Linked DNA regions of Homo sapiens. The protein of the gene in region 1 interacts with the protein of each later gene in a pairwise test. Each region holds a gene or a part of one and is shown in the gene's direction. Other genes may lie near its edges. The genes, in order: CANX, CHST15 and ABCA1.

Region 1 (3,650 bases):
GAAAATACCAAATCCAGATTTCTTTGAAGATCTGGAACCTTTCAGAATGACTCCTTTTAGTGCTATTGGTTTGGAGCTGTGGTCCATGACCTCTGACATTTTTTTTGACAACTTTATCATTTGTGCTGATCGAAGAATAGTTGATGATTGGGCCAATGATGGATGGGGCCTGAAGAAAGCTGCTGATGGGGCTGCTGAGGTTCGTGTTTGCTGCTTGTGCATTTGTGTCTGTTATTGTAAGGAGCTGTTATTTTGTGAAAGTCTGTGTTAAGGTTTTTTTTCTTCATTTGGCAATATTGGCATAAAAAGTATAACCATATGCCTGCAAAAGACACAATATTGGGTTTTGGGGCATGATTTCATTAGTCTAATGTAGTGGCTTTAGAGTCTGTTTGTGTTCAGGGTTTTTTTTTTATTATTTGTCTGGGTATATATTTCGAAATTTGTCATTTAGGCTATATTTTAATACACTCTTATATGTTGAATCTCGGTTTACACTACATACAGAATTTTCAAACAACTGGTCATGTGGCCGATTTAAGAATTGGAGAGCCAGGGATACTGAGATAAGAAATTCACTGGATCCTGAGGTTAAGGGAGCCTTTTGCAGGTGATGTAGAAGCCAGCTTTTGCACCTATGAGAGTGAAATCATCTTGATTATAAGGAGAGCAAGAGGATGGAGGCTTTCTCTAATTTCTTTTTTACATTTTATGAGCATTTTCTCTGAAAAAGAAGGTCCTGCGTAGTGCCATGCCATAACTGAACTGCAGAAAAACAGCACGGCCTATGTTTGGTGTCAAAAGCTGGAACTTTCAATCAGCCCTGTCTTGTTTTTCAGCCAGGCGTTGTGGGGCAGATGATCGAGGCAGCTGAAGAGCGCCCGTGGCTGTGGGTAGTCTATATTCTAACTGTAGCCCTTCCTGTGTTCCTGGTTATCCTCTTCTGCTGTTCTGGAAAGGTAGGAAGTTTTTTTTTTTAGAATCAATTTTAGAGACATCACTCTAGTGATTATTAAAAATAACTAAGATATGTTGCCTGAGGTTTTCTTTGTAGTGGCTCAGTAATGACCAAGCCATGTTTGGTGTTGACTTCAGAAACCTTACTTACTGTTCCTCAGTGGCCGTTTATTGTGCCCAGATGGGAGCAGGATTTATAGCCCCTTGGTTGCTATTATTATTTATCCTAATCTGTTACTCTCCATAGTGTTCGGCAGCAACTTTCTAAAAAAAAACAATAAACTTAGATACCAAACTAGCCACTTGGGCAATAATCAGCTTTGCCTGCTGGCATAGCTATTTCTATTCTTTGTAATTCAGTCTTTGATTCCTCATTATCCATTCTGCCTTCACCTTCCCCACTCTCAAAACAGTATGTTGGGGTACCACAGCCTTATTGTTAGTTTTTCTTGTTTAGCCTTTTTTTTTTTGCATGCTATCATAAAAAAAGAAAGTCTTATTTTGGACTCTACTTCTGCTAAATGAGGATTATGCTTCATCTGGCATTCATAGCACTTTGTAACTGGATCCCAAGTTCCTTTTCCAGCCTCAGCCTCTGCCACTATTCTGTGTATCGGTGCCTCAGTCACCTTGACTTTTTTGACCTTTATTTTCCTGCCTGGCCCTTTTGTTTTTATTGTTCTACCTTGAAACACACAAGCACATGTGCATACACACACGTACATACACGCTCTTCAGGGTAGGAATTACATCCTATTCGTTTCTGTATATCTATCCCTGTATACAGCCTGGAACAGAACTTTGCCTGTAGGCATTCAGGAATTATATAACATAATACATGAACATGTAAACAAAATTGTACTTTGGGGAACATTTCAGAAACAGACCAGTGGTATGGAGTATAAGAAAACTGATGCACCTCAACCGGATGTGAAGGAAGAGGAAGAAGAGAAGGAAGAGGAAAAGGACAAGGGAGATGAGGAGGAGGAAGGAGAAGAGAAACTTGGTAAGAAACAGAGTCCAGAAAATCTGCTTTAAGCCAAGACCCTACGATGTTGTTAAACCTTTACAGTCAAGTTAAGGATTGTTTTTAGCCAGGCGTGGTGGCTCAAGCCTGTAATCCTAGCACTTTGGGAGGTTGAAGCAGGAAAATCACTTGAGCCCAGGAGTTTAAGGCTGTAGTCAGCCAGGATAGTGCCACTGCACTCCAGCTGAGCAACAGAGTGAGACCCTGTCTCTCTCTCTCTCTCTTTTTTATTTTTTAAGACAAGGTCCCACTCTGTCACTCAGGTTGGAGTACAGTGGCACAGTCACAGTTCACTGCAGCCTTGACCTTATAGGTTCAAGTGATCCTCCTACCTCAGCACCCCTCCAAGTAGCTGGGACCACAGGCATGCGCTACCATGCTCAGCTGTTTGTTTGTTTGTTTGTTTATTGATTTATTTATTTGATATGGTCTGGCCCTGTTGCCCAGGCTGGAGTGCAGTGGTGTGATCTCGGTTCACTGCAGCCTTTGCCTCCCAGATTCAAGCGATTCTCCCACCTGGGCCTCCCAAAGTGTTGGGATTACAGGCGTGAGCCACCAGACCCAGCGAGATCCTGTCTCTTAAAAAAAAATTGTTGGCCAGGTGCGGTGGCTCACGCCTGTAATTCCAGCACTTTGGGGGGCCGAAGCAGGCAGATCACGAGGTCAGGAGGTCGAGACCATCCTGGCTAACATGGTGAAACCCCATCTCTACTAAAAATACAAAAATTAGCCGGGCATGGTGGCAGGTGCCTGTAGTCCCAGCTACTCAGGAGGCTGAGGCAGGAGAATGGCGTGAACCTGGGAAGGCAGAGCTTACAGTGAGCCGAGATTGGGCCACTGCACTCCAGCCTGGGTGACAGAGCAAGACTCTGTCTCAAAAAAAAAAAAAAAAAAAAAATTGTTGGCCAGGCATGGTGGCTCACGCCTGTAATCCCAGCACTTTGGGAGGCCGAGGTGGGTGGATCACGAGGTCAAGAGATCAAGACCATCCTGGCCAACACAGTGAAGCCCCGTCTCTACTTAAAATAAAAAAGTTAGCCAGGCATGGTGGCGGGCGCCTGTAGTCCCACCTATTCGGGAGGCTGAAGCAGGAGAATCACTTGAACCCGGAAGGCAGAGGTTGCAGTGAGCCGAGATTGCGCCACTGCACTCCAGCCTGGCGACAGAGCGAGACTGAGTCTCAAAAAAAAAAAAAAATTGTTGGCCGAGCAAGGTGGCTCACGCCTATAATCCCAGCACTTTGGGAGGCCAAGGTGGGTGGATCACCTGAGGTCAGGAGTTCGAGATCAGCCTCGCCAACATGGTGAAACCCCGTTTCACTAAAAATACAAAAATTAGCCAGGCGTGGTGGTGGGCACCTGTAATCCCGGCTACTCCGGAGGCTGAGGTAGGAGATCCACTTGAACCTGGAGGCAGAGGTTGCAGTGAGCCGAGATCATGCCATTGCACTCCAACCTGGGTGACAAGCAAAGTCGATCTCAAAAAAAATAGTGGCCGGGCGCGATGGCTCACGCCTGTAATCCCAGCACTTTGGGAGGCCACCGAGGAGATCATGAGGTCAGGAGATCGAGACCATCCTGGCTAACACGGTGAAACCCCGTCTCTACTAAAAATAAAAAAAGTTAGCCGGGCATGGTGGCAGGCGCCTGTAGTCCCAGCTATTCAG
Region 2 (3,650 bases), on another chromosome or scaffold:
GGCGTGGTGGCTCACGCCCGTAATCCCAGCACTTTGGGAGGCTGAGGTGGGTGGATCACCTGAGGTCTGGAGTTCGAGACCAGCCTGGCCAACACAGTGAAACCCTGTCCCTACTAAAAATACAAAAAATCAGCTGGGTGTGATGGCAGGCGCCTATAATTCCAGCTACTCAGGAGGCTGAAGCAGGAGAATTGCTTGAACCCGGGAGGCGGAGGTTGCAGTGAGCCGAGATTGCGCCATTCCACTCCAACCTGGGCAACAAAAGCGAAACTCCGCTTCAAAAAAAAAAAAAACGAAGACGGAAATATGGATGTCAGATACCTGGATGCATGGGTGCAGAATGAGAGTCACAGAATTGCCTTCCCTGGAAAGAGGGGAAGCCAGGTTGGAGAAGTTGAAGGAATAGAAAGTATAGAGCTTTGAGGAGAGAGAAGTGTGACCCTGTGGAGCCACGTAGGCCATGTTTTTCATAAGCCCAGTTTCACCCTTGGCCCAGAGATGCAGGTGTGTGTGCAAGAAGAGAGTGGGACATATGGCAGGAAGGTTGAAAACAGACAAAAAGGGCTGCAAGGAGAGATAGAGGAGAAAAAAGAGTAGGAAACTCACACCCTGAATGTTCTGTTGAAGATAAAAACACCTCTTTTTTTTTTTTTTGAGAGAGGTTCTCACTCCCATTGCCCAGGCTGGAGTGCAATGGCATGATCACGGCTCACTGCAGCCTCAACTTCCTGGGCTCAGGTCATTCTCCCACCTCAGTCTCCAGAATAGCTGGACTACAGGCACGCACCACCACGCCTGGCTAATTTTTTGTATTTTTAGTAGAGACAAGGTTTCACTATGTTGCCTGGGCTGGACTTGAACTCCTAGGTTCAAGTGATCCTCCCACCTCGGCCTCCTAAAGTGCTGGGATTACAGGCATGAGCCACTGTGCCTGGCCCTGACATTTATTAAAATGGCAATGCAGGCCTTCTTCAGGACCATTGTGGTAGGTATAGGGACTGCCATGACAGTTTTTCAGTAGAGGAGAGAGACTCCGAATACAACTAGGAAAAGTAGGGATTTTAAAGCCGAGGCAGGTGGATCAGTTGAGGCAGGAGTTCAGGACCAGCCTGGCCAACATGGTGAAACCCCATCTCTACGAAAAATACAAAAAAATTAGCCAGGTTTGGTGGGCAGGCGCCTGTAGTCCCAACTACTCGGGAGGCTGAAGCAGGAGAATCGCTTGAACCCAGGAGGCGGACGTTGCAGTGAGCTGAGATCACGCCACTGTACTCCAGCCTGGGGGACAGAGTGAAACTCTGTCTCAAAAAAAAAAAAAAAAAAAAAAAGAAATGCCAAGGAGCAGGGCGAGGGGGTTGGTGGCTAGAAAATTACTAAGGGGAAACATCAAGGGGGAAGGGGTGGGGATTCTGGCTAAACCAACCCGATGGGATTCTTGCTGGAGACAGGCCAGGTGGCCAGGCATCTCCTGGGGGTGGTGGACTAGGAACCTGATCAGATAAGAAGGGTGGTCAGTTAACCAAGGGTGGGGGATTCTGGCTAAACCAGCATAGCAGTGTCAACAAACAATATTTTGACAAATTTAGTTTAGAGATCTCACTGGTGTTTATTAGCACGGTCCATGAACAGGGCAGCATCCCATTCCTGTAATACGAAGGTGCTCCTGTGGGCCCAGCCAGGTTCTGGCTTTATAGGCAGAAACGGGCTGAAGAAGCAAAAACAGGCAACGGAGAGTGGATTGTTCATTTCAGAGTGACTTTCCTTCTAGGGTTAAAGCAAAGGGGACGTCTGACTGGTTGCTGTGTATCCCCTGGTTTTTTGGAAACTGGCCCATTCCGAGTTCAGTTCAATTACGTGGCACCTAGCACAGATGACTCTGTTCTGGCCTGTGGGGGCCTATTGCAGAAGCTCAGTCCAGAACAGTAGCCTCTCATACATTTTATTTAACAGCAGGATTCTTGCTAAAATAGGGTGGTGCAGAGATGGACCTGGAGGTAAAAAAGTTAAGGTCTAGTTGGGAGGAGGATACAGAGGAGCCTGAAGTGGGTCAAGGAAGACGATCAGTTCCCGTGCGGCAGCATTCTGCCATACGTGTGTGTGGTGTCTAGGAACAGATCTGTGTCCACGGGTAAACGTGTAAGTCTGCAGGTATTCCTGTGCATATGTGGGGGTGCTTTTACATCGTGTTAAAAACAAGGTCCCTACCAACCTAGAAAGATACATCTCATCATTTTTTTTTCAATGTCAGGAATGCGTATGCAAAGTAGTGGGAATTTCATGCGGAATTGTAATATTGTGAGAGCAACAGATGCTCTTATTTTTGTTCCCTTCAGTAGAGGAGAGAGGAATGAGAAGGTGCATAAAATTTTCATGGCTTCTCTTTGCTAGTGTACCATTTTTGTAATCTGGTATTGTTTGAAGCTCCCTGTTACTGTGAAAACAGAGGCTGCCTGAGATGATAGAACAAGCAACACCATAAAAGCGGCTGGTGGTTTGTGTGGGGCCAGTATAGACATGTCTGGGTCTGGAAGAGCTTAGGTGGCCACGAGAAGGGCGGGAGCTCGGAGGGATGAGGGAGGTGGCTCATCTGCAAGGGAAAGAAGAAGGGTGGTTGTGCTTCAATCAGGAAAACTAGATAATGTAATTGTACACTGATTTTCATTGTCGCCCAAATGGTGTGATTGCATGTTCATGGGTGGTAAAAATATGCATTTATTTTATTCACAGGTTGTACTCAGACTATCTCTACTTTGCAAGTTCGAATAAATCCGCGGACGACTTCCATGAGAAAGTGACAGAAGCACTGCAGCTGTTTGAAAATTGCATGCTTGATTATTCACTGCGCGCCTGCGTCTACAACAACACCCTCAACAACGCCATGCCTGTGTGTACCCCCCCCCCCCGTACCCCCCGAGCTGGCCCCTGGCAGAAGGAGCTGGTTTGTTGTTATTATGCAAGCGGCATTGTGGGTTTGCGTTTCAGCATAGGAACAGAGAGAAGCGTTTTAATGTGCAAATGCTGTTCCCCATTATTCATGGATGTAAAAGCTGAAAACTGATGGGCTCTTGGTCTGGCTCCTGCCTTCCTCCCTGCTGGTCACCTGCCACCTCCCCCTCCTCCCTCAGCAGGAGGATGAGGGTGCCTTTAGGAAGATTACCATTTAGCAAGACACCCAGCAATTAGAATCGGCAGACATGAGGACACCCAACTCTCAAATTGTCTTAAGAGCATTCTCTTGAGCGGTGGATTGTTTTGTTGGTTTAAAAAACTACCCATCAATGATTTTCAATGCTTCTTTGACAGAGTCTCAATTGAAAAACATTTTCTGTTGATTCCTCAATCGTATCTCTTGTTCTTCCTTCAGAACTATGTCTGTAAATTTCTAGCCTTTTTGAATGCAAAAAGCTGTTATTGGTGAATTCAGCACCTTTTAGCCCCGGGATAGTTTTCCATGCTGGGCTCCCTGGGCTGGCTGTGTACTTCAACAGCAGGGCTTATGCAGCGAGCATTGCCGCTGCGTGTTCCAGAGTGGCTTTACAAGCCTTGCTCTGCTCAGCGTCTCGCATAGCAAGGCACCAACAGGCCTGCTGTGGAGTCTTGGAAGCCCCCAGGTGGTGGGACTTCAGGCCAAGAGGCTCTGCCCCCTCTTT
Region 3 (3,650 bases), on another chromosome or scaffold:
CAGTTATCCATTCACCCATCCACCCACCCACCCACCCATCCTTCCATCCTCCCATCCTCCCATTCACCCATCCACCCATCCAGCTGTCCACCCATTCTACACTGAGTACCTATAATGTGCCTGGCTTTGGTGATACAAAGGTGAATAAGACATAGTCCTTTCCTTTGCCCCCAACCCTCAGACCAGAGATGAACATGTGGAATGACCTAAACACCTGGAACAGGTGTGGTGTATGAGCGGCAGGCCTCTGATGAGAGGGTGGGGGATGGCCAGCCCTCACTCCGAAGCCCCTCTGAGTTGATTGAGCCATCTTTGCATTCTGGTCCCTGCAGATGTCTCTGCTATCTCCAACCTCATCAGGAAGCATGTGTCTGAAGCCCGGCTGGTGGAAGACATAGGGCATGAGCTGACCTATGTGCTGCCATATGAAGCTGCTAAGGAGGGAGCCTTTGTGGAACTCTTTCATGAGATTGATGACCGGCTCTCAGACCTGGGCATTTCTAGTTATGGCATCTCAGAGACGACCCTGGAAGAAGTAAGTTAAGTGGCTGACTGTCGGAATATATAGCAAGGCCAAATGTCCTAAGGCCAGACCAGTAGCCTGCATTGGGAGCAGGATTATCATGGAGTTAGTCATTGAGTTTTTAGGTCATCGACATCTGATTAATGTTGGCCCCAGTGAGCCATTTAAGATGGTAGTGGGAGATAGCAGGAAAGAAGTGTTTTCCTCTGTACCACAGTACATGCCTGAGATTTGTGTGTTGAAACCAGTGGTACCTAACACATTTACATCCCAACCTTAAACTCCTATGCACTTATTTACCCTTTAATGAGCCTCTTTACTTAAGTACAGTGTGAGGAACAGCGGCATCAGGATCACTTGGGAACTTGTTAGAAATTCAGCAACTTGGGCCCAGCTCAGACCTACTGAATCAGAATCAGGAGCAATTCTCTGGTGTGACTGTGTCACAGCCAGGTATCAACTGGATTCTCATACATAGGAAATGACAAACGTTTATGGATGGATAGTCTACTTGTGCCAGGTGCTGAGATTTGTTTTTTGTTTTTTGATTTTTTTTTAATCACTGTGACCTCATTTAATTCTCAAAAAAAGATGAAAAAATGAACACTCAGGAATGCTGACATGAGATTCAGAATCAGGGGTTTGGGGCTTCAAAGTCCATCCTCTCTTTATCCATGTAATGCCTCCCCTTAGAGATACAACATCACAGACCTTGAAGGCTGAAGGGGATATAAAAGCTGTCTGGCCAAGTGGTCTCCAAGCTTGACAGTGCAGCAGAATCACCTGGGGATATTATTAAAAATAAACATACTAAGGTTTGGCTTCAGGGCCTGTGAATCAGAATTTCTGGAGGTGAGGCCTTGAAGTCTGTATTTCTATTGCATACTTTGGACACAGTGGTCTATAGACTAGAGTTTGGAAATGATTGCGCTCATTCAGATTCTCTTCTGATGTTTGAATTGCTGCCATCATATTTCTAGTGCTCTATTTCCTCCTGCTCATTCTGTCTTGGATAACTTATCATAGTACTAGCCTACTCAAAGATTTAGAGCCACAGTCCTGAAAGAAGCCACTTGACTCATTCCCTGTAGGTTCAGAATAAATTTCTTCTGCGCAGTGTCTGTCATAGCTTTTTTTAAATTTTTTTTTATTTTTGATGAGACTGGAGTTTTGCTCTTATTGCCCAAGCTGGAGTGCAGTGGTGCGATTTTGGCTCACTGCAACCTCCACCTCCCAGGTTCAAGCGATTCTCCTGCCTCAGCCTCCCAAGTAGCTGAGATTACAAGCATGTGCTACCACGCCCAGCTAATTTTGTATTTTTAGTAGAGATGGGTTTTATCCATGTTGGTCAGGCTGGTCTCGAGCTCCAGACCTCAGGTGATCTGCCCGCCTCGGCCTCCCAAAGTGCTGGGATTATAGGCCTGAGCCACAGCGCTCAGCCATAACTTTAATTTGAAAATGATTGTCTAGCTTGATAGCTCTCACCACTGAGGAAATGTTCTCTGGCAAAAACGGCTTCTCTCCCAGGTAACTCTGAGAAAGTGTTATTAAGAAATGTGGCTTCTACTTTCTCTGTCTTACGGGGCTAACATGCCACTCAGTAATATAATAATCGTGGCAGTGGTGACTACTCTCGTAATGTTGGTGCTTATAATGTTCTCATCTCTCTCATTTTCCAGATATTCCTCAAGGTGGCCGAAGAGAGTGGGGTGGATGCTGAGACCTCAGGTAACTGCCTTGAGGGAGAATGGCACACTTAAGATAGTGCCTTCTGCTGGCTTTCTCAGTGCACGAGTATTGTTCCTTTCCCTTTGAATTGTTCTATTGCATTCTCATTTGTAGAGTGTAGGTTTGTTGCAGATGGGGAAGGTTTGTTTTGTTGTAAATAAAATAAAGTATGGGATTCTTTCCTTGTGCCTTCAGATGGTACCTTGCCAGCAAGACGAAACAGGCGGGCCTTCGGGGACAAGCAGAGCTGTCTTCGCCCGTTCACTGAAGATGATGCTGCTGATCCAAATGATTCTGACATAGACCCAGGTCTGTTAGGGCAAGATCAAACAGTGTCCTACTGTTTGAATGTGAAATTCTCTCTCATGCTCTCACCTGTTTTCTTTGGATGGCCTTTAGCCAAGGTGATAGATCCCTACAGAGTCCAAAGAGAAGTGAGGAAATGGTAAAAGCCACTTGTTCTTTGCAGCATCGTGCATGTGATCAAACCTGAAAGAGCCTATCCATATCACTTCCTTTAAAGACATAAAGATGGTGCCTCAATCCTCTGAACCCATGTATTTATTATCTTTTCTGCGGGGTCCTAGTTTCTTGTATACATTAGGTGTTTAATTGTTGAACAAATATTCATTCGAGTAGATGAGTGATTTTGAAAGAGTCAGAAAGGGGAATTTGCTGTTAGAGTTAATTGTACCCTAAGACTTAGATATTTGAGGCTGGGCATGGTGGCTCATGCCAGTAATCCCAGCGCTTTGAGAGGCTGAGGTGGGTAGATCACCTGAGGTCAGGAGTTTGAGACCAGTCTGACCAACAAGGTGAAACCCCGTCTCTACTAAATACAAAAAATTAGCCGAGTGTGGTGGCACATGCCTGTCATCCCAGCTACTTGGGAGGCTGAGGCAGGAGAATCGCTTGAACCCAGGAGGCAGAGGTTGCAGTCAGCCACGGTTGCGCCATTGCACTCCAGACTGGGCAACAAGAGTGAAAACTCCATCTCAAAAAAGAAAAAAAAAGAATTAGATATTTTGGATGAGTGTGTCTTTGTGTGTTTAACTGAGATGGAGAGGAGAGCTAAGACATCAAACAAATATTGTTAAGATGTAAAAGCACATCAGTTAGGTATCATTAGTTTAGGACAAGGATTTCTAGAAAATTTTTAGGAACAGAAAACTTTCCAGTTCTCTCACCCCTGCTCAAAGAGTGTATGGCTCTTACATTATATATAACTGCCTGACTTCATACAGTATCAGTACTTAGATCATTTGAAATGTGTCCACGTTTTACCAAAATATAATAGGGTGAGAAGCTGAGATGCTAATTGCCATTGTGTATTCTCAAATATGTCAAGCTACGTACATGGCCTGTTTCATAGAGTAGTCTATAAGAAATTGATGACTTG

Evidence for each region.
Region 2: the proteins of CANX (region 1) and CHST15 interact in binary tests that used the Homo sapiens proteins (3 or more experiments, as listed by UniProt).
Region 3: the proteins of CANX (region 1) and ABCA1 interact in binary tests that used the Homo sapiens proteins (3 or more experiments, as listed by UniProt).

Annotation. Positions count from the first base shown.
Region 1 is NC_000005.10:179,722,821-179,726,470, forward strand, and holds part of CANX (calnexin isoform d precursor), read left to right. Parts: coding exon 1-199; intron 200-839; coding exon 840-959; intron 960-1,836; coding exon 1,837-1,963; intron 1,964-3,650. UniProt on the Homo sapiens protein: Calcium-binding protein that interacts with newly synthesized monoglucosylated glycoproteins in the endoplasmic reticulum. It may act in assisting protein assembly and/or in the retention within the ER of unassembled protein subunits.
Region 2 is NC_000010.11:124,020,490-124,024,139, reverse strand, and holds part of CHST15 (carbohydrate sulfotransferase 15), read left to right. Parts: intron 1-2,727; coding exon 2,728-2,884; coding exon of another isoform or gene 2,885-3,058; exon of another isoform or gene 3,059-3,650. UniProt on the Homo sapiens protein: Sulfotransferase that transfers sulfate from 3'-phosphoadenosine 5'-phosphosulfate (PAPS) to the C-6 hydroxyl group of the GalNAc 4-sulfate residue of chondroitin sulfate A and forms chondroitin sulfate E containing GlcA-GalNAc(4,6-SO(4)) repeating units.
Region 3 is NC_000009.12:104,813,028-104,816,677, reverse strand, and holds part of ABCA1 (phospholipid-transporting ATPase ABCA1), read left to right. Parts: intron 1-332; coding exon 333-535; intron 536-2,202; coding exon 2,203-2,251; intron 2,252-2,446; coding exon 2,447-2,560; intron 2,561-3,650. UniProt on the Homo sapiens protein: Catalyzes the translocation of specific phospholipids from the cytoplasmic to the extracellular/lumenal leaflet of membrane coupled to the hydrolysis of ATP.